5 separate regions of the Homo sapiens genome follow, and regions 2, 3, 4 and 5 are each linked to region 1. Evidence: fine-mapped expression QTL. A gene starts in region 1. Each other region holds a variant in brackets. All regions are shown on one strand. Distances are between the middles of the regions. Region 1 holds the start of LPCAT1 (lysophosphatidylcholine acyltransferase 1). Region 2 overlaps LPCAT1 (lysophosphatidylcholine acyltransferase 1). Region 3 has its middle 14 kb from the start of SLC6A3. Region 4 overlaps LPCAT1 (lysophosphatidylcholine acyltransferase 1). Region 5 overlaps LPCAT1 (lysophosphatidylcholine acyltransferase 1).

The links. PIP is the estimated chance that this variant, and not a neighbour inherited with it, causes the effect.
Region 2: its variant is fine-mapped to the expression of LPCAT1 in whole blood (TOPMed, PIP above 0.99). The same link has a PIP of 0.9 or more in T cells and activated CD8 T cells.
Region 3: its variant is fine-mapped to the expression of LPCAT1 in whole blood (TOPMed, PIP 0.92).
Region 4: its variant is fine-mapped to the expression of LPCAT1 in testis (GTEx, PIP above 0.99).
Region 5: its variant is fine-mapped to the expression of LPCAT1 in whole blood (TOPMed, PIP above 0.99).

The regions. Positions count from the first base shown.
Region 1 is chr5:1,521,999-1,526,199 of GRCh38, forward strand. LPCAT1 (lysophosphatidylcholine acyltransferase 1) reads right to left here and starts at 1,962. Exons shown (of 14, transcript NM_024830.5): 1 at 1,712-1,962. The coding sequence starts at 1,846. RefSeq lists silencers at 1,150-1,349, 1,620-1,929, 1,950-2,349 and a cis regulatory region at 3,119-3,354.
Region 2 is chr5:1,499,271-1,503,270 of GRCh38, forward strand. It overlaps LPCAT1 (lysophosphatidylcholine acyltransferase 1), which reads right to left. Exons shown (of 14, transcript NM_024830.5): 2 at 2,191-2,333. Among named protein-coding and RNA genes, the nearest start is that of MIR6075, 9.6 kb to the right of the region's middle. RefSeq lists enhancers at 980-1,871, 1,872-2,762, 2,763-3,653. The variant T/C (reference allele first, on the strand shown) is at 2,139.
Region 3 is chr5:1,457,013-1,461,196 of GRCh38, forward strand. No RefSeq gene overlaps it. Among named protein-coding and RNA genes, the nearest start is that of SLC6A3, 14 kb to the left of the region's middle. RefSeq lists an enhancer at 1-55. The variant A/G (reference allele first, on the strand shown) is at 2,446.
Region 4 is chr5:1,493,508-1,497,507 of GRCh38, forward strand. LPCAT1 (lysophosphatidylcholine acyltransferase 1) reads right to left here. Exons shown (of 14, transcript NM_024830.5): 3 at 1,193-1,407. It overlaps LOC124901162 (a long non-coding RNA gene), which reads left to right. Exons shown (of 2, transcript XR_007059103.1): 2 at 1-2,012. Among named protein-coding and RNA genes, the nearest start is that of MIR6075, 15 kb to the right of the region's middle. RefSeq lists an enhancer at 430-1,629. The variant A/G (reference allele first, on the strand shown) is at 2,141.
Region 5 is chr5:1,476,116-1,480,115 of GRCh38, forward strand. LPCAT1 (lysophosphatidylcholine acyltransferase 1) reads right to left here. Exons shown (of 14, transcript NM_024830.5): 8 at 3,506-3,560; 9 at 1,289-1,371. Among named protein-coding and RNA genes, the nearest start is that of SLC6A3, 33 kb to the left of the region's middle. The variant C/T (reference allele first, on the strand shown) is at 2,165.

The sequences.
Region 1 (4,201 bases):
TGGCCTCCGGGGACCTCCAGGGAGGGGCTTGATGTTTCCCCCCAGGGAGCCAGGAGGGAGTAGGAAAGGCAGGAAGAGAGAGCATGCCTGAGGCAGCCATAGCTGGGGCAGGAGCAGGGCTGGGGAAGCCCTGGAAACCACAGCAGGGGTTCGAATTTCATCCGGGGGCGTCCCCGCTGAGGGCTTCCGAGCAGCAGAGTGCAGGAGGAAGAAAGCCTGCTGGGAGTGACTCAGGGAGAGTGACCAGGGAGAGAGCCTGGTGGCTGGGTGGGGGTGAGGATTGAAGAGGAGGAATGGTTGAGGGGCACAGAATGAGCGACCGTGTCCCAAGTCCTCCTTTGAGGGGCACAGCACACGGCAGCTGACAGCGTGTGGCAGACAGAGGGCCAGGCAGAGCGGCGGCAGAGGGGCCGGCACCGCCCCAGCCCCAGAGTCCAGCTCCCGACACACAGGGAGACGGGGGCCAGGGCCTGGGAGCCAGGCTGGGGACGACCTCACCCTGTGTGTCACCAGGAGGGGCGGCACCATCGGGCTCTCCTGCTCCCCGTCCCCTTCCATACCCTGAGGACCAGCCGCATCAAGGGGCTTTGAGCAAAAGCAGGCGTCCTGGGAAAATGACAAGCTCAAACTGGCCTCAAGAACTTTTCACTTCAGGGTTCTTTCAGATAAAGTACTTTATGCATTAACAAATCTCCATCTTCCCGGAAATCTATTCTCACAATTGGAAGCGTGCTCCCTACAAACCGGACAGCCCCATAGGCCCCGAAACAGTGCTTGCTTCTAGGAATTATTCTAGAGTCAAAAGTAAGGTCCTCTTGAGAGTGGATCTCAGGTAACTGTAAGCCCAGCTGGCAGCCAGGTAGCCGGAAAAGCCAGGCTGAGCCAGCACATCCCCGGTGCAGCTTCCTGCAGCGAGCGGCCCCCTCCCCACGACGCCCCCGGGTCTCCCCTCACCACTGTCCCATCGCAGGATCTCAGCAAACCGTTCCCTCCCACGTGGCAGCCCAGGTTGCATAAAGTTGATTCGGGTCAGACCAGCCCCGAGAAAGCATCCCTTACAACAGGAGCGAAGCATGCACCCCAGAAGGCAACGTGCGGCCGCAGAGCAGGGAGACCCGTGCGCCTACAGGGGACCCTACAGGGGACCCGCACCGCCCGCGCGCCCTGTCCCGGGCACCACCAGGCCCCGCACACGAGGCTCACCCAGAGCCGCGGTGCCCTCCCGCCCGCGGGCCGCGTCCAGGCAAAGCCGCTCCGGAGTCCCCGGGCTGCGCGCAGGGCCTGCCAAGGCGGGCGGGGCCCGGACCAGGGACGAGCGCGGGGACCGGCGATGCGGGTCCAGCCTCCCGCGGGAGCCGAGGTCGGGGCTCTGGGAGGCAGAGAAAGGGTTGTGGGCCCGGTTCAGGGTGCAGGGGTCTGGGGGGAGGAGCAGAACGCGGGGCGGGGATGGGAAGCGGGGACCCCGAGGAAGGCGCTGAGGGACCAGGATGCGCGTGCGGGCGGCGGGAAGCCGGCGCCGAGACCGAGGCATCGGGTGCGGGCGGCGGGGACGCGAACTGAGGGGCGGCCGCGGGGAGGGAAGGCGCCGCGGCTCGCAGGGCCGCGCCGCGCCCCAGGCCCCCTCCCCGGCCCCTCCTCGGCCGCGCCTCCCTGGCCCCAGCATCCCTGGCGTCCGCGCCGGCTCCCGGGGCCGCGCGCCCTGGGCACCCACCTGGGCCTTCTGCAGGGCGCTGAGGCGCAGCTCGTGCACGAAGGGGTTCCGCCCCGGGGGCGCCAGCAGCCGAGCGTCGCTGGCCCCTGCGCTGGAGGCAGGGGCGGCCCGGGGTCCGCATCCCCGCAGCCTCATGGCCGCGCCGTCCCGCGGCGAGCGCAGCCGAGCTGCCTGGGGCGCCGAGCGGGGCCGGGGCTAGCTGGGCGCGGGTCTCGGGGCGCGGGCCGAGGATGCGCGGCGGCTGGAGCGGGCCGGGCGCGCAGGCGCGGGAGGTGACGTGGGCGGAGCGGGAGCGCCGGCCGGGGCGGGGCGTCCCTGGAAGCCTCGCCTCCCGCCGGCCGGCAGGGGCGGCACCAGCCGGAGTTCCGCTACCTGGTGGTTTCTCTGGGGTCTGTGGGGGGCCGGGGCCGCTGGGGACCGGGGGCGCCTCCTGCAGCCACTGGAGCACAGGGATCCCCGGCAGGGTCTGCGCCAGGAGAAAGGGAGGTCCCCCGGGCCCGCGAGGCTGCCACGTCGTCCCCTTCCGCCGCTCGGCCCGCCTGCTCGCGGGGAGGGAGGAAGGGGCGGGCACGCGTCCAGCTTACGCGCAAGGCGGGCCAGGCCCTGGGTGCCGAGCCCCGGGCTGTTCCGGCGAAGGCCCCACGCCATTCTTCTTATTCGTTGGGCTCCTAGCTCGCACCGGCGACCCTGGAAGCTGCCCCGGGCTGAGGGAGCTTCTTCCAGCCGCGCCTCAGCCCAGGCGACTCCCGCCTGAGGTCCACTCGACCTTAGGACCCCCCAGACCTCGGGATCCCCTCAGATCTCAGGACCCCTCAAGCCTCAGGACCCCCTCAGACCTCAGGACCCCTCCGATCTCAGGACCTCTCAGGCCTCAGGCCCCGCAGGGATGGCCCAGGCAGGAGGCGCACATAGGGGCCCTGACTGTCCGTGCTGGTTGTGCAGGGGCTGCGATGAGATCCCAGCGCTTTCTCACCCGTAGCTGCTTTGGCTCGGGCATTGCCCTTGTGGTGCTCAGGAGCCGTGTGAGGAGCCCCAGGGTGGGGCCCATAATTAGCCGGAGCGAGAGTAGGATGGGCTCCTGCCTCCGGGTGAACACGCTTGGATTTCAGAACTCACGCAGGCCTTCGGTCACAGTGCTCACGGCTTCCTCACCCCGGCTGGCCCTGTTGGTTCCTTCATGGCCAACGGACCTCACCCAGACAGAGCCGGTTTGGGCCACCTGGCCAACCCCCCAGGGTCCTGGCTCCTGGGGATGTCACTGCTGTGTTGGCCCCAGCTGGGCCCCATCCTCAGCAGACGCCAGGGAGTGCCCCGACCCCTCCAATGACCCTGCCTGCGCCCTTGTGGACCTCATAGTGCAGCGGGCTGGCAGAGACCCTTCTGTGTCTGAGACCGGGGTGAGGGCCAGGGGTCTGTGCCATCCACATATCATGCACAGAGAAGGCCCCGGCAGGCCAGACCCGCTGCATGGCCTTATTCCTGCCCCATAAGAGTCCCAGCCCATATTCCTGCCCCATAAGAGTCCCAGCCCATGCCTAGCAGCAGCACCTGTCCCAAGTGCCACACCCACGGGGATGGGGTGAGCCCTGTGTGCTGGTGGGCATTGGTGGCTCTGTGGCCCAGCCACCAGCGTTGCACCCACCTCCTGGGCTTTTAGTGGCCACTTGCTCTGATCCCCAAAACCAGAGCCCAGCACCCGAGGCCACCCAAGGCTCCTCACCGAACTGATCATCAAGAAAGCCCAGGACACAAAGCCTGCCAGCCACAGGGCAGCACCTGCACCCCAGCGATCCAGGCGGCCCCACCTGCTGCCTGAGTGCTCTGGAGAGGAGGGGCCCTAGGGTGTCCCAGTCCTGGGATGAGAGCAGCCTCAGGACTGGACTTGGAGAGCCATGAAAGTGGGGTCCTCCCAGAAGCACAGGCCAGGAAGCGGTGTGTGGCGGAGGGGAAACCTGCTGGAGATGGTGCAGAGCCAGATTCAATGGGGAGAGCTGCCAGAGAGTCATGGCTGTGTCCCCAGAAGATGCAAAAGTCCTAACCCACAGCACCTGTGGCCGCGACCTTATTTGGAAACAGGGTCTTTGCAGATGATCAGGTTAAGAGGAAGTCATTAGGGTGGGCCCTAGTCTGAAATGGCTTGTGTCCCTATAGAGAGGGAGATTCGGTCTCAGAGACAGACACAGAGAGAGCTCCATGGGAAGGCCAGGGTTCTGCTGCTACAGGCAAGCAGTTCCCAGGAGCTGGAGAGGCCTGGAGCAGGTCCTCTCTAGTGCTCTCAGAGGGAGCCTAGGCCTAGGGTGCCATGATCGCAGGCTTCTGGCCTCCAGACTGGGAGAGAATAAATTCCTTCTGCTTTAACCTGCAGAGTGCAAAGTGAGTTGGAACCCAGGGAAGGAGGTGGGGAGGCTGGGGGAAGAACCTCATACTGCCCGGCAATCTAAGCAGGGTCAGCAGGTTGTCCTTGAGCCAAGGTCGGTGGAAAGAGGAGTC
Region 2 (4,000 bases), 23 kb before region 1:
TGAGACAGAACAGAGGAGGCGGGGAGCTCGGCCCAACAAGGACATGGGGAGTAAAGAGAAAGGGTGCCAGGAAAGCACCACGAAGCCATTGCTGCCCACAGCACCACATTCAGCCAGGTCACCTGCAGCCTGCTTCACACTACAGAACCCCCACTTTCTAGCTGTGGCTTCTCAACTCAGCAAAACTGAAAGCCTGACTTTGATTTGGCCTTGATTTACTTTGCTTGGTTATATATTTGATACCCAATTCCTATTTTATGGTTAAAACGTTTCAAAAACAAACCAAGATAAAGCATAAGAGAATTTTAAAAATCTAGAAAGGCTAAATGAAGAACTAAAGCCCGTGATGATCCTGTTGCCCCTAAAGAACCCAGGCTGCCCCAGGTCACCACTACCCAGCAAGCTGCTCAACGTCCACCCACTCAGCAGGGCCCAGAGTGAGGGACCCCCAACGCCCAGGCTGCCCTCTCCTATGACTGCACCATGTCTGCACGCAACGGTGCGGCAAACCCGGGACCCTAAGTGGCCGTCTTCCCCCTGCACCTAACTGCATGTCTGAGTGTGGCCCTGGGTATCAAGGAGAACCGAAGCTCAGGCAGATGTCAGCTCCCATCAGCCTCTTGGCCGTGAAAACTTTGCTGTACATACAGCCCACAGATCAGACACCTTCCAGAGAAAGGAGGGGCCTGGGCGTGCCCATTACACCTTTCGGAGGCCAGGCAGTGAATGCTTTAGGCTCTACAGCCACACGGCCTCTGTCCCAACCACTTGGCCCGGTTCCCCACCAATGCAGCCCTGAACATCACGCAGGCCAGCGGGCGTGCCCGTGCTCCAGTAAAACTTTACTTATAGTCAGGCAGCAGCCTCCAATTAACTACTAATATTCCTGTTTCTGAATAAAAGATTCAGGGAGCCCCTCCAGAATGATGAGAGATGTTAACAACACATGGAAGGGTTGTCAGAGCTGTGGTTATAGGACACGCGTGGTAACTTTTAAGATACTGAAAATATTTATCAAAGTATTTATGATATCTCAACATTTTCATTTGCTAATGGCAGATACTTTCAGTGAAAGCACAGCTTTAGGAATTTAAATGAAACAAGAAAATATTGTGATTTAGTTTAATTTTTTGTGGTCTGTTTTGGATCTTTAGTTTAGATGTATTCCTCATCGGGTAGGTGTGCTTTATTTATATTCCGTGCTTAAAAGCCAGGAAGAGTTTAGGTCCACAAAGCAAGGGAAAGACGGCCCTGGAGGGGTGGTGCCAGCAGGCAGCAGGCCAGGCCAACGTTGGCTGACATGCAGTCTCGGAGGGCGGGGAAGGACCCGAGCCTCCTGTCCGAAGGCAGGGCTGGGCCTGGCTCCAGCCAGTTGCTGGCCCTGGGGAGCAGGCCCACTGGCCGGAGCTTCTGCTTTTCCAAGACTGGCCAGAAATGGGGATTTTGATGTCAAGTCACTGGGCCTTTATGATGCGGCAACCTGTTCCCACTTAGCCCAATTTTAATAAGACCAGGTTGGCAGGAGATGCCATGGTGGCCACCTGCCCCCCGAGCAGCCGTTCCCCTCATTGCTGCTGCTCTCACACCTGGAAGATGGCCCCTCCCGGGCCCACGGCACCCGCACCAGGTCCAGCTGCCTCTGCATGGGGGCCACTGAGGCAGGGACCTCCCTAGGCAGGAGGCCTGTGTCACTGTGGTGCCCTGTCACTGCAGCCCAAGAGGCCGTCCACTCACAGCCTGAGGGTCTGGGGGAGGCCACCATGGGCAGGGCCAGAGCTGAGGGTCTGAGGTGGGAGGGGTAAGGGGGCTGGCAGTCACAAAGCCAGGAGAGGGTGTCCAGAAGCCTGACTTTCGTCAGCAACAGGGAGCCCCAGCAGGTTCTGGAGCAGAGAAGGCTACGGTGTAGGGGGGTCTCTGTGCTCAAGGGTGTGAAACAATGGCCACACATCCTGCAGACCCCTGGAAAATGAAGCCTCAGAGCAGGACTGTGGCGGAGGCGTGGAAGACAGAGGCAACGGGGAGGTGGCCGAGTCCCCACTGGCAGGGGGCAGCCCTGGTGGACGCTGGGCTCAGAAGGGAAGGACAGATGGGCTAGGGTGGAGACACACAACCCCACTGTGAGAATGGGTTCCCACTGT[T/C]TGGCCGCGTGACCCCCCCCCAGGAGGAGAGCACGGCACACGCGCAACTTACTTCCTCCACAGGGCCGGGGGCTGCTCGGGTTCCTTCTCCGCAGAGCCCAGGGATGCGACAAGTGCGAGGGGCCAGGCCAGCAGCATCATGGCAGCGGCAACCAGGAGCCGGACCGGGAAGAGCGTCAGTGTCATGAGGGCCACCTGCAGACAGAGGGGGGCATTATCCAGAGAATCCATGTAGGACACCAGGCAGCTCCCCACCCGGCAGAGGCTAGCCCAGGGGGACAGCGCGCCCCACAGAGTGGAGAGCTGGGGAGGGGCTGCAGCTGGCACACAGCTGACCAAGGCTGACCAGCACTGACCGAGGCTGACCAAGGCTGACCGAGGCTGACCAGTGCTGACCGGCGCTGACCAAGGCTAACCAACACTGACCAGCACTGACCAAGGCTGACCGGCACTGACCAAGGCTGACCAACATTGACCGGCACTGACCAAGGCTGACCGGTGCTGACCAAGGCTGACCAACACTGACCGACACTGACCAAGGCTGACCGGCACTGACCAAGGCTGACCAACACTGACTGGCACTGACCAAGGCTGACCAACATTGACCGGCACTGACCAAGGCTGACCGGTGCTGATGCCGACCAGCCCTCACCATGGCTGTGGACACTGGCCAGTGCTAACTGACATGCTCCACACCCACTGCCCGCTTCCTGCCTCCTTACTGGAGCTGCCATGCGAGTGGCTTGGGAAAGACACAGTGGAGCTTCCTCCTGCAAATTCAAGGGCCACTCTGACGCACAGCACACAACCCCAGGCAGCTCCACCCCGCAGGACGCACCCCCAGGCAGCTCCGCCCCCCAGGACACACCCCCAGCCCCGCAGGCCTCACTCAGCAGTTTCCCCTGAAATCGTTTATGTGGACATGAGAAAGCATACGCCACCCTAGGCAGTGTTGGTGACAGGGGGAGGTAGCTGGCCTGCAGTTTGCAAGGTTGGACCTCAGACCACAGAGAAGACGGCAGAATGAAGGTGTGACTTTCCAGTCAATGGAAGACCCGGCGCAGGAGAGTGAACTGGCGGGAGGGCAGGGGCGCAGGTCAATATGGGGGCTCAGGAAGGCCCCCCAAGCCAGGGCAGGCCCCCACGCCAGGGAAGGCCGAGGCTGCGGGATCCCAGGCAGCCCAGGGTCTGAGGATGGAGGTCCCTCCGGGAGGCGGGCAGGACTCCGTGTAGAGGGGCGGGAGGCTTTGGGTGAGGGGAAACACCAGTCCTGAGGTGCAGGTTTAGTGCAGAGACAGAAAAGACCCAGGAGACACAGATCGCAGTTGGCTCCCCAAGCAGCAGCCATCCCTAATTTCTGATGCCTGTCATGAGAGCGCTCCCACTCTGTTTCCTTGGTTTGTCCCTAGATTCTTTTGAGTTCTCAACGGAGACCAGCATAGCCCAAGAGAAACATGCCTGCCACATGTGTCATTTTAAATTTTCGAGTGGCCACATTTAAAGGGAATGACAATTTAATATACAGCTCATTTCGCCCGGTATATCTGAAATACCATTTCGACACGTACTCAACGTAGAAGTTGCTACTGGCTAGTTTGCATTTTCTCCCGCTGTCTTGGATTGTGCAGTGTGCATTTCACTCTCACAGCTTTATGCCACCTGTGTCTCCACCCTGTCAGTGCCCAGTGGTCAGGTCAGCCTGTTGGGTACGCAGATCTAGATGATGTTTGGTTTGCGAGAGATGACGACCTCTAATTTGCCTCCCCTTCCCCGCTTCTGGGGGCTGCTCCTCACCCCAGCTGGGTCCCCGCTTCAGCATCACACTCGCTGCACCAAGCAACCACAAATCTGTTATCCCGCCA
Region 3 (4,184 bases), 65 kb before region 1:
CACACATAGCTGTATTTTCAGGTTCACTAATATTTTCTCTTGTCGGGTCTAATTTACTATAGTCTCTGCCAGGGTATGACACAGGCAGTGGATGTCAGCCTGTCTCTTTCCCAGCCAACCCAGTGTTTACCTAGTAGAACCATTCACAAACTGGCACTGGAAATAGGGATGGAGATGAGTGTGGATCAATAACAAAGAGCTGACCCATCAACAATAGCCTAGGCTGATGCAGTTATCACTGGACTCCCAACATGTCGGAAGCAGGGTCCCATACTTAGCCCCAGGTACCATTCCTGGGAAAGGGACTAGCCAGCCCCCTGGAGGCAGGTTGATCACACTGGACTCTTCCATCATTGAGGGGAGTATCTCTTGGTTTCAGTTTCCCTTATTCCAGATATGGATATGTCTTTGCTGTCAGTGTTTCTGACAGCACCATCTGTGGGCTTGATGAATGGCTTATTCACTATTGCCCACCTCCTATGGCATTGTTAAGGAATTTACTTTACAGCAAAGGCAGCATGGGAACAGGTACACACTTGGAATCCCTACGTTTCCCATCACCCAGAGGTGGCGAGTCTGATTAAGCATGAGGATGACTTCTTGAAGCTTTAGGTGTGCTGCCCATGGGGAGGCAGTGCCCTAGAACATTGGACTGCCATCCTGATGGATGACATAGTGCCTCGAACTGTGGACCAAGACATGGCACCATTTCATAGCCAGAATAATGTCTGTAATGTCAATGGGTGGAATTAGGACTGGCCCTGCTCACCACCACATCCAACACTTACTGCAGGGTGGCTGGTGCTGCTGTTCAGAAGATCCTTCACCTCCTTTGAGGGGCTCCCTTGCAGGACTGTACGTCTCTGGCTGTTGAATTCAGCTGTGACCACATGGCTTACTGTGGCCAATGAACCAGGAGTGGGCCTGCTGTATTCTGCGTCTGTGCAGCAGATATAGCATCTAGGCAGGCTTGCTTGTCACCTCTTCCCAAAGCCATCTGACTGGCTGAGTCCCAGGAGGGGCTGCTGTGCTGGGCTGGATGCAGATGGTGACATGGAGCAGAGCTGCAGCTGACCTGCCTGGGAGAGACGGGCGAGGACCACATCTGTTTAGCTGACCCTGACATTTTATTGGTTTACATTTGTTACCGCAGCATCAATGATCCCAGGTGGGCTGATAAACCCATTCACATATTTTTGCTTTTCTCGTCTGTGACATTGGGCTCTTTTGCTTTCAAGGTCCTAGTTCCCAAGGCTGGAATGCTCTTACCTGGGACCTCAGTGATCCATCTGCTGCACTGAAAGTTCAGACGGTCATCAGCTATTTGGGGCTGCTCATGCCACTTAGCTAATAGTTCAAGAAAAGCATGCTGTCTTGGTGGGGATGGCTAACCCCAATGAAAGGGCTATCTTGGAGCTCAGTGGATTCTCTAGGTACTTCTCAGGGCTTTCACGACTAATATTGTGACTAATAAAGGCAAGACGACAACTGCATCAGACACACTGGAATGAAAATTTGAGTCCTCTCACTGGGTAAAGAACCCTGACCATCCAAAGTACTGCTTAGGGTCAAGAAAACGTGGAATGGGTAGTGGAAGAAGGAAGGTGTAGCTGCTGATCACAGCCTCACAGCTAGCCACAGCATGAGGACAGTACCGGGCATGCAGGCTGTCCTCTTTGCTTGCTGTGTGTGTGTGAGCATGTGTGGGAGCATATAAGTGTGTGTGCATTAGTGTGAGCATGTGCATGCATGTGAATGTGTCTATGAAGACGTGCATGTGAATGTGCTCATGAGCATGTGTGTACATGTGTAAGCCTCAGCATGAGTGCATGTGAGCATGTGTGTACATGTAAGCCTCAGCATGAGTGCATGTGAGCATGTGTACATGTGTAAGCCTCAGCATGAGTGCATGTGAGCATGTGTGTACATATGTAAGCCTCAGCATGAGTGCATGTGAGCATGTGTACATGTGTAAGCCTCAGCATGAGTGCATGTGAGCCTCAGCGTGAGTGCATGTGAGCGTGTGTACATGTGTAAGCCTCAGCATGAGTGCATGTGAGCATGTGTGTACATGTGTAAGCCTCAGCATGAGTGCATGTGAGCATGTGTGTACATGTAAGCCTCAGCATGAGTGCATGTGAGCATGTGTACATGTGTAAGCCTCAGCATGAGTGCATGTGAGCATGTGTGTACATATGTAAGCCTCAGCATGAGTGCATGTGAGCATGTGTACATGTGTAAGCCTCAGCATGAGTGCATGTGAGCCTCAGCATGAGTGCATGTGAGCGTGTGTACATGTGTAAGCCTCAGCATGAGTGCATGTGAGCATGTGTGTACATGTGTAAGCCTCAGCATGAGTGCATGTGAGCACGTGTGTACGTGTAAGCCTCAGCATGAGTGCATGTGAGCCTCAGCATGAGTGCATGTTAGCATGTGTGTACATGC[A/G]TAAGCCTCAGCATGAGTGCATGTTAGCATGTGTGTACATGTGTAAGCCTCAGCATGAGTGCATGTGAGCATGTGTACATGTGTAAGCCTCAGCATGAGTGCATGTGAGCATGTGTGTACATGTGTAAGCCTCAGCATGAGTGTATGTGAGCATGTGTACATGTGTAAGCCTCAGCATGAGTGCATGTGAGCATGTGTGTACGTGTAAGCCTCAGCATGAGTGCATGTGAGCATGTGTACATGTGTAAGCCTCAGCATGAGTGCATGTGAGCATGTGTGTACATGTGTAAGCCTCAGCATGAGTGCATGTGAGCATGTGTGTATCATTGTGTGAGCATGTGTGGATGTGAACGTGTTGTGCATATGTGTGTGTGCACGTGAGCCTGGGAGCATGCAAGTCATTTGTTAATTGATTACTCCTTTTCCCACTTCTCAGCATCCCCACTATTTTACACAGGGAATATTAGTGGTGGTAGATGGTGAACTTTGAAACTTAAGTTTTTCATGTCAGAGAATGTCCAGATGGGTTTGTGGCTGTACCAGAGAAACCATTAGTGGCGAGGAAGACTCATGGGTCTCTACTGTTTCTGGGGAAGGTAAAAGCACCTGTGTTGGGTGGTGTGAGTACAGCACTGTGTTGGAAGATGTCTGAGTGTGTGACTTACTTGTGGACACAGAGCAGCTATGGGTGGGCAGTGCTGGTCCTTCACTACCCCGTTTGCCCTCAGCCCCACTTCTCACATTCCCGAGCTCTGCTTCATGGCCCAGGGGGCCTCTCCTCCCAGCCAGCTTCTGGTTAGGATCAGCATACGGCAGCAGCAGGTGCAGCTGTGTCAACTCTTGCGTGAACACCGGGGGTGGGTTTGCTTTTTCCTGAGGGTCCCACCTTCATTTCTCCTGGCTCCAATGCTGAGTGGAGAACTGAACACACAGAAGCAGAGGCATGTTCGATGACAAACACGTGTGCTGCAAACCACACGAGTTACCCTGCTGTGCACCTCCCTGGGTGCACCCGCCGGGCACGGCCACCCTGCCCACAGCCGGCACCTGGAGCCAGACGCTCCTCCTTCTCGGTCTCACACCAGCCGCATCTTAGCAGCAGCTGCCCCATCCAGTGCTGATGTGAGATGTGCAGATCTAGTTTTTGTTTTAACCCTTGCTTTACTTGAAAACTTGGACATATTCAATCAATTTCAACGGCAGTATTCATGTATTAAAAATGGCAGATGCATACAAGCATGAAGAAGTAAAAATTGCTGTTGCTTGAAATAATGTCATTTTGGTGCACATTCTCTCTCACTGAGTGAGGTCAGACTGCACAGCTCCCTGGTAGCCCATGTCTGAGACTTACCTTCCTGAACAACGTAACGATTCATTTTTCACCCTCCCAGTATCCCCCATAATTGTACACAGGGAAATGAGTGGTGGTGGATGGTGAACTTTGAAACTTCGTTTTTCAAAGTATTAAAAAGGAGAAACACCTGCAGATTGGCCATTTGCAGGCTTTTCTCCTTAAGTTTTTCTTCCATCCTTGACGCTGGTGGAGACACAATCTTGATTCTTCACGTGCAGTTTTGGAGAGTGTAACAGGTGAGCTCGGTCTTTTACCTCTAGTTCCAAACCTTTTACTGACTCAGTAGGACTAAATGCCAGATCCATTTTTCTCTCTGCTTGACAAAACACGCTTAAGGTGCATGTGCTTAAAATTGAGAAATTACGTAAGTCAACCCACCAGGCAG
Region 4 (4,000 bases), 29 kb before region 1:
GTGAGGGCCCCGGCCATAGGCGACGCCCCTCGTCCCAGCAGCTCCTTCCCTCAGCACCGCCCACTGCCAACCCAGGACCCGCTGTGCCCCAGAACGTGCTGTGCTGTGCTGATGGCGGCTGTGAAGGAAGCACGAGGACAGAACGGGCCCAGATGCCCTGAAGAGCACCGAGGACAGAGCTCTGGTGGGTCAGGGCTGCGCACAGGTGGGTGAGGGGCCACGCAGGGCTCCCTACAGTCCTCCCAGAGCAGTGGGTCCATGGGATGCGGCCCCCAAAGATGGGTCCACATGCTGACCCTGGAACCTGTGAATGAGGCCTTATTTGGAAAAAGGTTTTTACAGAGGTAACTCGTTAAGGATCTCAAGATGAGAGCATCCTGGATCACCCAATGACTGGTCCTTATAAGAGACTCATAGAGGAGACACTTGGAGGGAGCCAGGCCAGTCGACCACTGAGGCAGAGTCAGAGGGACGCAGCCCCCAGAGGAGGAAGAGGCAGGAAGGGGCCGCACAGGGCCTTCGGCCCAGAGACGCCTTGATTTTGAACATCTGGTCCCCAGATGACGAGAGGGTGAATCTCTGCTGGAGTGAGCCCCCGGCTTTGGGGAGGGGTCATGGCAGCACCAGGTGCTCAGGTCCCTGGTTCACGGCACAGCCGCGGTGCATGGGCAGCCCTGCCGACCTGCTCCCAAAGACTTCCAGAACTGCCATCTGATAAAGGTGAGCCACCCTTGCCAAGCAGACCTGGAGCAAGCACTGTAGCCTGTTATGATAGTGAGGGCACTCAGGTAGCAATAAAAATAACAATTACAACAACGAAAATTACACAGGAAACCCCAACACAGAAAATGGGGCACAAGGCCAATGTGCCCGGCGGTGGGGGCTCGATCACTCCCAGCAGCGTGGTGGGGGGGGGGTCCCTCACTCCCGGTAGGGAGGGTCTCACTCATTTCCAGCAAGTGGGGGTCCCTCATTCCTAGCAGGGAGGGATCTCTCATTCCCAGAAGGGGGGGTCCCTAAAAACCAGCAGGGAGTCCCTCATTGCCAGCAACAGAGGGGGTCTCACTCATTCCCAACAGAGGGGGGACCCTCACTCCCAGCAGGAGGGGAATCTCTTATTCTCAGCAGCAGGGGGATCTCTCACTCCCAGCAGGGCAGGGTCCCTCACTCCCAGCAGGGGTGTCTCACTCACTTCCCCAGATCGGGATGTCTCTGCTCTCTGCCTTCATCACGATGGAGGACATCGTCATGGTCACAGGGATGGCGTCGAAGTAGGACGAGTGAGGCGCGAGCGTGAGGATGGCCGCCTCGGTGGGCAGCGCCTGCCGCCCCTTCACGGCCACCCGGTGGAAGCCGCCGGCGAACCACATGGTGCGCATGATGGCCTTCAGCAGGAAGTCCACAACCCTGCAAAAGAGGGCGCTGCGTCACGCGGGCACACGTCCGCAGTCTCGGAGTCTGTGTGAGGCACAGGGGCGGTCCCACGGGAGAGCCCTCCAGGGCGCAGTCCAGGCCACGGGCTTCCTGTGGTCGCCGCCGCTGGGACATCTGCTTGAGGGAAGAAAAGACGCCGCGCCTTCCTGGCCTCCGCCTGTGTCCTCGCTGGCTGCGCTCTCACCTACGAAGGAGGCCGCGGGGCCCTGTGTGGTGGTCACGGGCCACGCGGCAGGCAGTGCTAAGACAACATGAGACTCCGGAACACAGACAGCACAAGTCCCAGGCCAGAAGACCTCCGGACCTTCATGTTAGCAACTTATTTATCAGCATCCTATCATTTTGAAATGGGAAAAACATTAAAACACCTAAAACGCATATCGCAATATGGGGGGGGGGGCGCTCAGAGCTGAGGGCGGAAGCTGAGACCTGCGTGCGAACTTCCCCATCTCATCTCCACAGGAAGCCCGGGGTTCCCACAACCAGGCGTTGTGTTATTACAGTGAGCTGTTTCTGGAGGAAATTAGATGGCCAATAAATTTGGAAAATAAAGTAAAAATCAGCCTAGGTTAACTGAATTTGTGTACTCTTTATCTCTTTTTAAAATAGGTACAAATTTAGCCTTTTAAATGTGTGTATTCTCTTTCATATGAGGCTACAGATTAGGCTGTTATTCCACACCTCAGGGAATTGACACGCAGCAGAC[A/G]GCCACGGTGTGTGAGAAGCCACAGGTCAGGCACACAGAGAACATGATTCAGCCTCATGAGAAGCCACGGCTCACTCGGCCACTGGGTTAAGTGGGCGCATCACACTGGGTAAAACTACTGCACAGAGAAACAAGAGCCTGAAGCCTTACTGGATTCACATTGCCCTGGGACAGATGATCCTCCCAGAAGACTTCCAGGACAGGGGTCCCCATGGATCTGAGCCAAGGCGGTTGCTAGGAGGGCACAAAGCCTCCTCTCGTGGGGCCACCTTGGAATGGCCTTTGTGTATGCGATGATAAACAATGGTGTAGTTACACATGGAGATGCTGGGGACCAACCCAGGGTGCTGCTTGTCTAGAGGAGGGGGGATTACACAGGTGTGCACTTCTTCACCACCTGTTCAGCTGCATATTTAAAAATGTACTTTTCTGGCCAGGCATGGTGGCTCACGCCTGTAATCACAGCACTTTGGGAGGCCAAGGCAGGTGGATCACTTGAGGTCAGGAGCTCAAGACCAGCCTGGCCAACATGGTGAAACCCTGTCTCTACTAAAAATACAAAAATTAGCTGGGCATGGTGGCAGGCGTCTGTAATCCCAGCCACTCAGGAGGCTGAGGCAGGAGAACTGCTTGAACCCAAGGGGCGGAGGTTGCAGTGAGCCGAGATTGCGCCACTGCACTCCAGCCTGGGCAACAGAGTGAGACTCCATCTCAAGAAAACTAAACTAAAAAATAAAGATGTACTCTTCTGTGCACATGTTATTTTCCACAAAAAAAAAAAAAAAGTACAAAAACAAAAGCCAAAAGACAGCAATTGATGCCTAAGATGGAAGAAACAAGGCAGCGGCGGAGGGAGAAGCGAGGCTGCAGAGGAGGCTGCGGCGGGCACAGGAGCCAGTCTCGGGCAGGTTCAGGGGCAGGAGAGAGGACAGCAGGAAAAAAGGGATTAAAACCCGGGCGGCCCTTAGAGGAACACACCTGCCAGCCCCGAAATCGAATTGCAGGGACAGACGGTGCTCAGGGGAACTGTACTGGGTGTCGGGGCAGGGAAAAAGCAGCCTCAGCTCTTCTCTAAAGATCTTGGAGGAATTTTATACCCAAACTATCCACATGTGAAAACCCGGACTGCTGGTGTGGATGACAGCCTCAGAGAAAAGCTCCGCTTGCTGTGGGGTTGGGGACCCAGCACCCACTCACCCCAAGGCAAAGGGAGCCAGCACAAGCCCAGGGTGCTCAGGTGCCTGGGCAGCCCATTCCCAGGGGAATGTGAATCAGGAGACAGATCTATCTGCATACACAGGAGCGGGGATCTCCATCAGCACCCCCAGGAAATCCACTCCGTCCTACCGCCCTCACACGGACGACACCCAAGAATCCTGAGACGTGTGAGCAGAGCAGCTGCATGGCAGAGAAGCAGAGGACTGACCCCAAGGAGACAGAAAGGGTGGGCATCAGAAGAGGGGTGCAAAACATCCACCACGCTCGCCAAGAGAGTCTGGAAGAACAGGGCGCTGAGGAGCATCAAAGAACAAGAAAACACTCTCAGAAACCAAGACTGTCACTGTGGAGACAAGCAACTCACAGGAAAGACTGGGAAATGAGGAGGAGGAAATCTCCCAGAACATGCAGGGGGAAAAGGAGGAAGGCCGCTGAGGCCTGCATCTCCTCAAGCCAGCTGGCATGTGGAGGTGGGTGGGGGAAGCCCACACGTCTAAGCGTGAGGGGCAGGCGCAGGCCCCGGCTCTGCAGGTTCCAAATGTTCTGCTGTGAGCAGAGGCAAGAGGCAGAGTGGAGCCGGCCCTGGAGAGGACCTATACACATGTACACAGCCTGAGTGCTGGCTACGGTGCCAGGCCGGTG
Region 5 (4,000 bases), 46 kb before region 1:
TTCTAAAATAATCAGTGAGGCCCACAGGCGATCTCTCCTTGAGCGCTGTAAAATCTGTTCTCTTCCTCCTAAGTCCCCAAAAGTAGCCAGTATTGGCAGCAGTCCGGAGCACAGGTGCTGGGCTTGGAGGTGGGAATGCATTCCCCTGGCTCGGCGCCTACTCAGCTTTTTGTATTGTTCAGAGCTGCCTGTGGTGGGGGTTGAGTGGAGCTTTGCGGGACAGAGACTGCCGGGCCCATTTCTACCCTCGGACACATGCTTTGGGAGGGAGAGGATGGGAACGTGAGGGAACGGGCCGCCCAGCTGAATCTTCAGGGTGTCAGCGGAGTGTGAACAAAGTGGCTCGGAGGTCAGAGCCAGGCACACTCTGATGGGCCCGGCCGTGGCTGTGTTCCCCTCTGGGCTCTCTGGAGAGGCGAGTTCCCAGCCATGCCCCGACCTGCTGCAGCAGGAGCCTGGGGGTGGGGCCGGTGGACCGAGGCTGATGTGGCTTCCAAGTGGCTCCTGCAGCTCAGGTCTGGCAGCCGCCCGGTGGAGGGGAGGCTCTAGCTCCACTGGACAGAGCTTTGCAGGAGGAAGCACTAGGGAGGCATTCACGTGGGGGTAAATCCAGGTGGGAGGACCTGGTTGCAAGGACAAGTGTGGGGGGAATGGGACCTGAGGGATGGAAGGTGCTGAGGGAGGGAGATGGGGAGGGCGTGTGAGCTGACGACACCGAGGGAGGGAGAGGGGGAGGGCGTGTGAGCCGACAGCACTGCCGGCCATGCAAGCAGGGGACCTGGGACCATGGGAAGCGAGGACATTCCCTCTTCCTAACTGCATGCACGACAACTGTGTAAGCAGCACAAGTCACCTTACAAGATTAAATGTGCAACCACCACTCCACTCTGCCAGATAGAGTAAGGGCACCGGTAAGTATCACACAGGCAGATGAGCAAAGGTAGGCGTGGAGGCCGCCGCACAGATGTGAAGTTGGCCCAGGCCAGCGCCCCGCTGGCTCATTTAGGGCACAGGAAACATAGGACCTGGGGTGACCAACGGCTGCAGGCAGGTCTGGAAGAACCAGTCATGCATCTTCCCAACGTCAAAGAGGGTGAAATGCCATCAGAGGGAAACAAGGGGCGCACAGCACAAGGCCAAGCACGCTTCACCAACATGCATGAAGCTGGTTCCCGCACTTCTGCAAGAATGCCTTTTCCTAACGCTGTTGCCTATTTTAAATATACAGAGAGCAGCACTCTGGGAGACACCCCTGACTCGGCGATGGGGGAAGGAGCTGCTCACTTACTCGGCCATGACTCGCCGCACGTTGCTGGCATACAGCGCGGGGTTCCTCTTCTCCTCCTCAGAAGGGCTGTACACAGGAAGGAACTGAGCACACAGAGAAGCTGCGTTAGTATCACAAGACGCTGACCTCAGCAACACCACTGTAACGACAACTGGGAGGCTGACAAAATTAAGATCTGTCAAAGTAACGCCCATTAGAACCGTCTTCAAAGTTGTCATGTGCACGTGTGTGTACGCACACACACACCCCCATGATGCATGAACTGCACACGTGTGCACCTGAACACTCACCCTCATTGGTGCTCCCTGGGAGCACCTGCTGCCTACATCAGAACATCTGGCTCTCTGATCTACACTCACCCCCGTCAGTGCTCCTGGGAGCGCCTGCTGCCTACATCAGAACATCTGGCTCTCTGATCTACACTCACCCCCGTCAGTGCTCCTGGGAGCGCCTGCTGCCTACATCAGAACATCTGGCTCTCTGATCTACACTCACCCCCGTCAGTGCTCCTGGGAGCGCCTGCTGCCTACATCAGAACATCTGGCTCTCTGATCTACACTCACCCCCGTCAGTGCTCCTAGGAGCTCCTGCTGCCTACATCAGAACATCCAGCTCCCTGATCTCACAGAGGGGCTTACGCCCATTTCTGACAGCATCAGTTTTGTAATGGGGATAATGCAGCACGTTATTCCTACATTTGGAACAGATTATTGGCAGCGTTTTGCCACCTCTTGCATTTTGAAACTAAAAGAAATTGTCCAGTGAATTTGTCCTTGCCTGAGTGACACTTACACAGCATTTTAAATGAATATGACCCACATTGCACACCGTGCAGGAAAGGGCACAAGACTACCCTGGATGTCCTTTTCTCTAATA[C/T]GGAATATTTCAGAATACAGGAACATCCTGAAACCCCAATTCTCGCTGTTATTTCTAAAACTTCCGTAAACTGCCATGGTTCCTTGCATCAACATTTGCATCTTGTATGAACAACGTCAGTAAGGACAGAGCAGTTTTGCACAGCCATTCACTTTCTTTTCAACTCTTAAAATTAGAAACCAGGCCTGTAACACAGCCATTCAACACCAGGGAGCCCTCAGGAGCTCAAGCTCAGTCCCTGTGTTCTGTGCTCGAGGCCTGGCCTGCACCCTCCCGGCCACTGCCCATCCAGCCACATAATCCTGCTGGGTGGGGGAACTGCCGCCCTCAGGCCCGGGCCAAGGCCCTTCAGCCCAGTCCTCTGTAATGAGAGCAGCTTATCCTCTATGGAAGTGAACAGCCGGGCTGAAAGCCGGGCTTATCAGTATATTTCGTAGTGCTCTCCAATATTTACTGGAAGGCAGCAAATTGTTTTATTAAATATTTAAGTTGCATGTGACTCATCTTTTATTTCCAGATGCAAGAAGTGCATATTAATTCCCCTTTTAAACAAAAAAAGAACTACTCCTCATCGACTTAGAAAAAATTGTGCAGGCTACACAGAGGTGACTATTTAGCCCAAGGTCTTGACTCTGGAGACCTGGGTCAGGCTGAGAAGGGGGATCTTTGACTATGTATTAAACAGAGCATGGTGCTATGACAAACTCAGCGGTATTAAATATGTAAAGTAAAACTAAGAGCCAAACAAATAATTATTTGCATGTGGGCCAGCTTCATATGTCCTTAAGCTACAATACCCATAATAATGAATGGTAGGTTTAAAAAATCCTTTCCAGCTGGGTGTGGTAGTTCACGCCTGTGATCCCCGCACTTTAGGAGGCCAAGGCGGGAGGACTGCTTGAGCCCAGGAGTTTGAGACCAGCCTAGGCAACAAAGTGAGACCCATCTCTACAAAAATTAGCTAGGCATGGCGTGTGCCTGTGGTCCAATTACGTGGGAGGCTGAGGCAGGGAGATCACTTGGGCCCAGGAGGTCGAGGCTGCAGTGAGCCCATCGCTACACTCCAGCCTGGGCAACAGAGCAAGACAAAATGCTGTCTCAGAAAAACAAAAAACAAAAACCCAAATCTTATCCAAGTGGTTCAGACTCATAAGAGAGACATAAAGTCATTGAGGTAAAGCAACCAGAGGCTCCTCGAAGGAGCCCTGAGAAACGGAAAGATGGGAAAGCAAGACAGGTGATATGCCACATTGTACAAGGCTTATCTGGGCATCCTGGTGTAAGCTCGTGTCTGCATCAACCACTGTGAAGAGCGCTGTGTAACTCTGTATCCATACGAACCTCGATTTCCACTTGGTTGTGAAACTGACACAGCGTGAGCCACAGGATTTCCAGCCTTAAAAACAGATTGCACAATGTTGAGCAGATTTACAACTCGGGTTAACAAGTAAATTACTCCCAATTCTGGGGTGAAACCTCCAGACGCGCCCTCCAGAGGGCGCTACTGGGCAGTCAACGCTCCCACGGAGGGGGTGCCGTGCCCACCCAGCCCGAGCCCCAGTGTGACGTACAGCCGTGGGTGGAAATGCTGCTTTTCCGATTCAACACCTGCTTATGTCCTTGGTTCGTCTAGCAAGACACCATCTCCTGCTTGTTCTCCAGCTCAGGAGACCTCGTACAGCCCACACCTGTCCCTCCACACCTGTCCCTCCTCGCTGTCCCCAGGCAGCACAGGCCCTGAGTCATGCCACCCCTCCAGCCTGGATCCAGAGTTCCCAACCTCAGAACCAGGATCACCATGCCTTTGCCGCAGGAGTTGACATGGGAGACATTTGG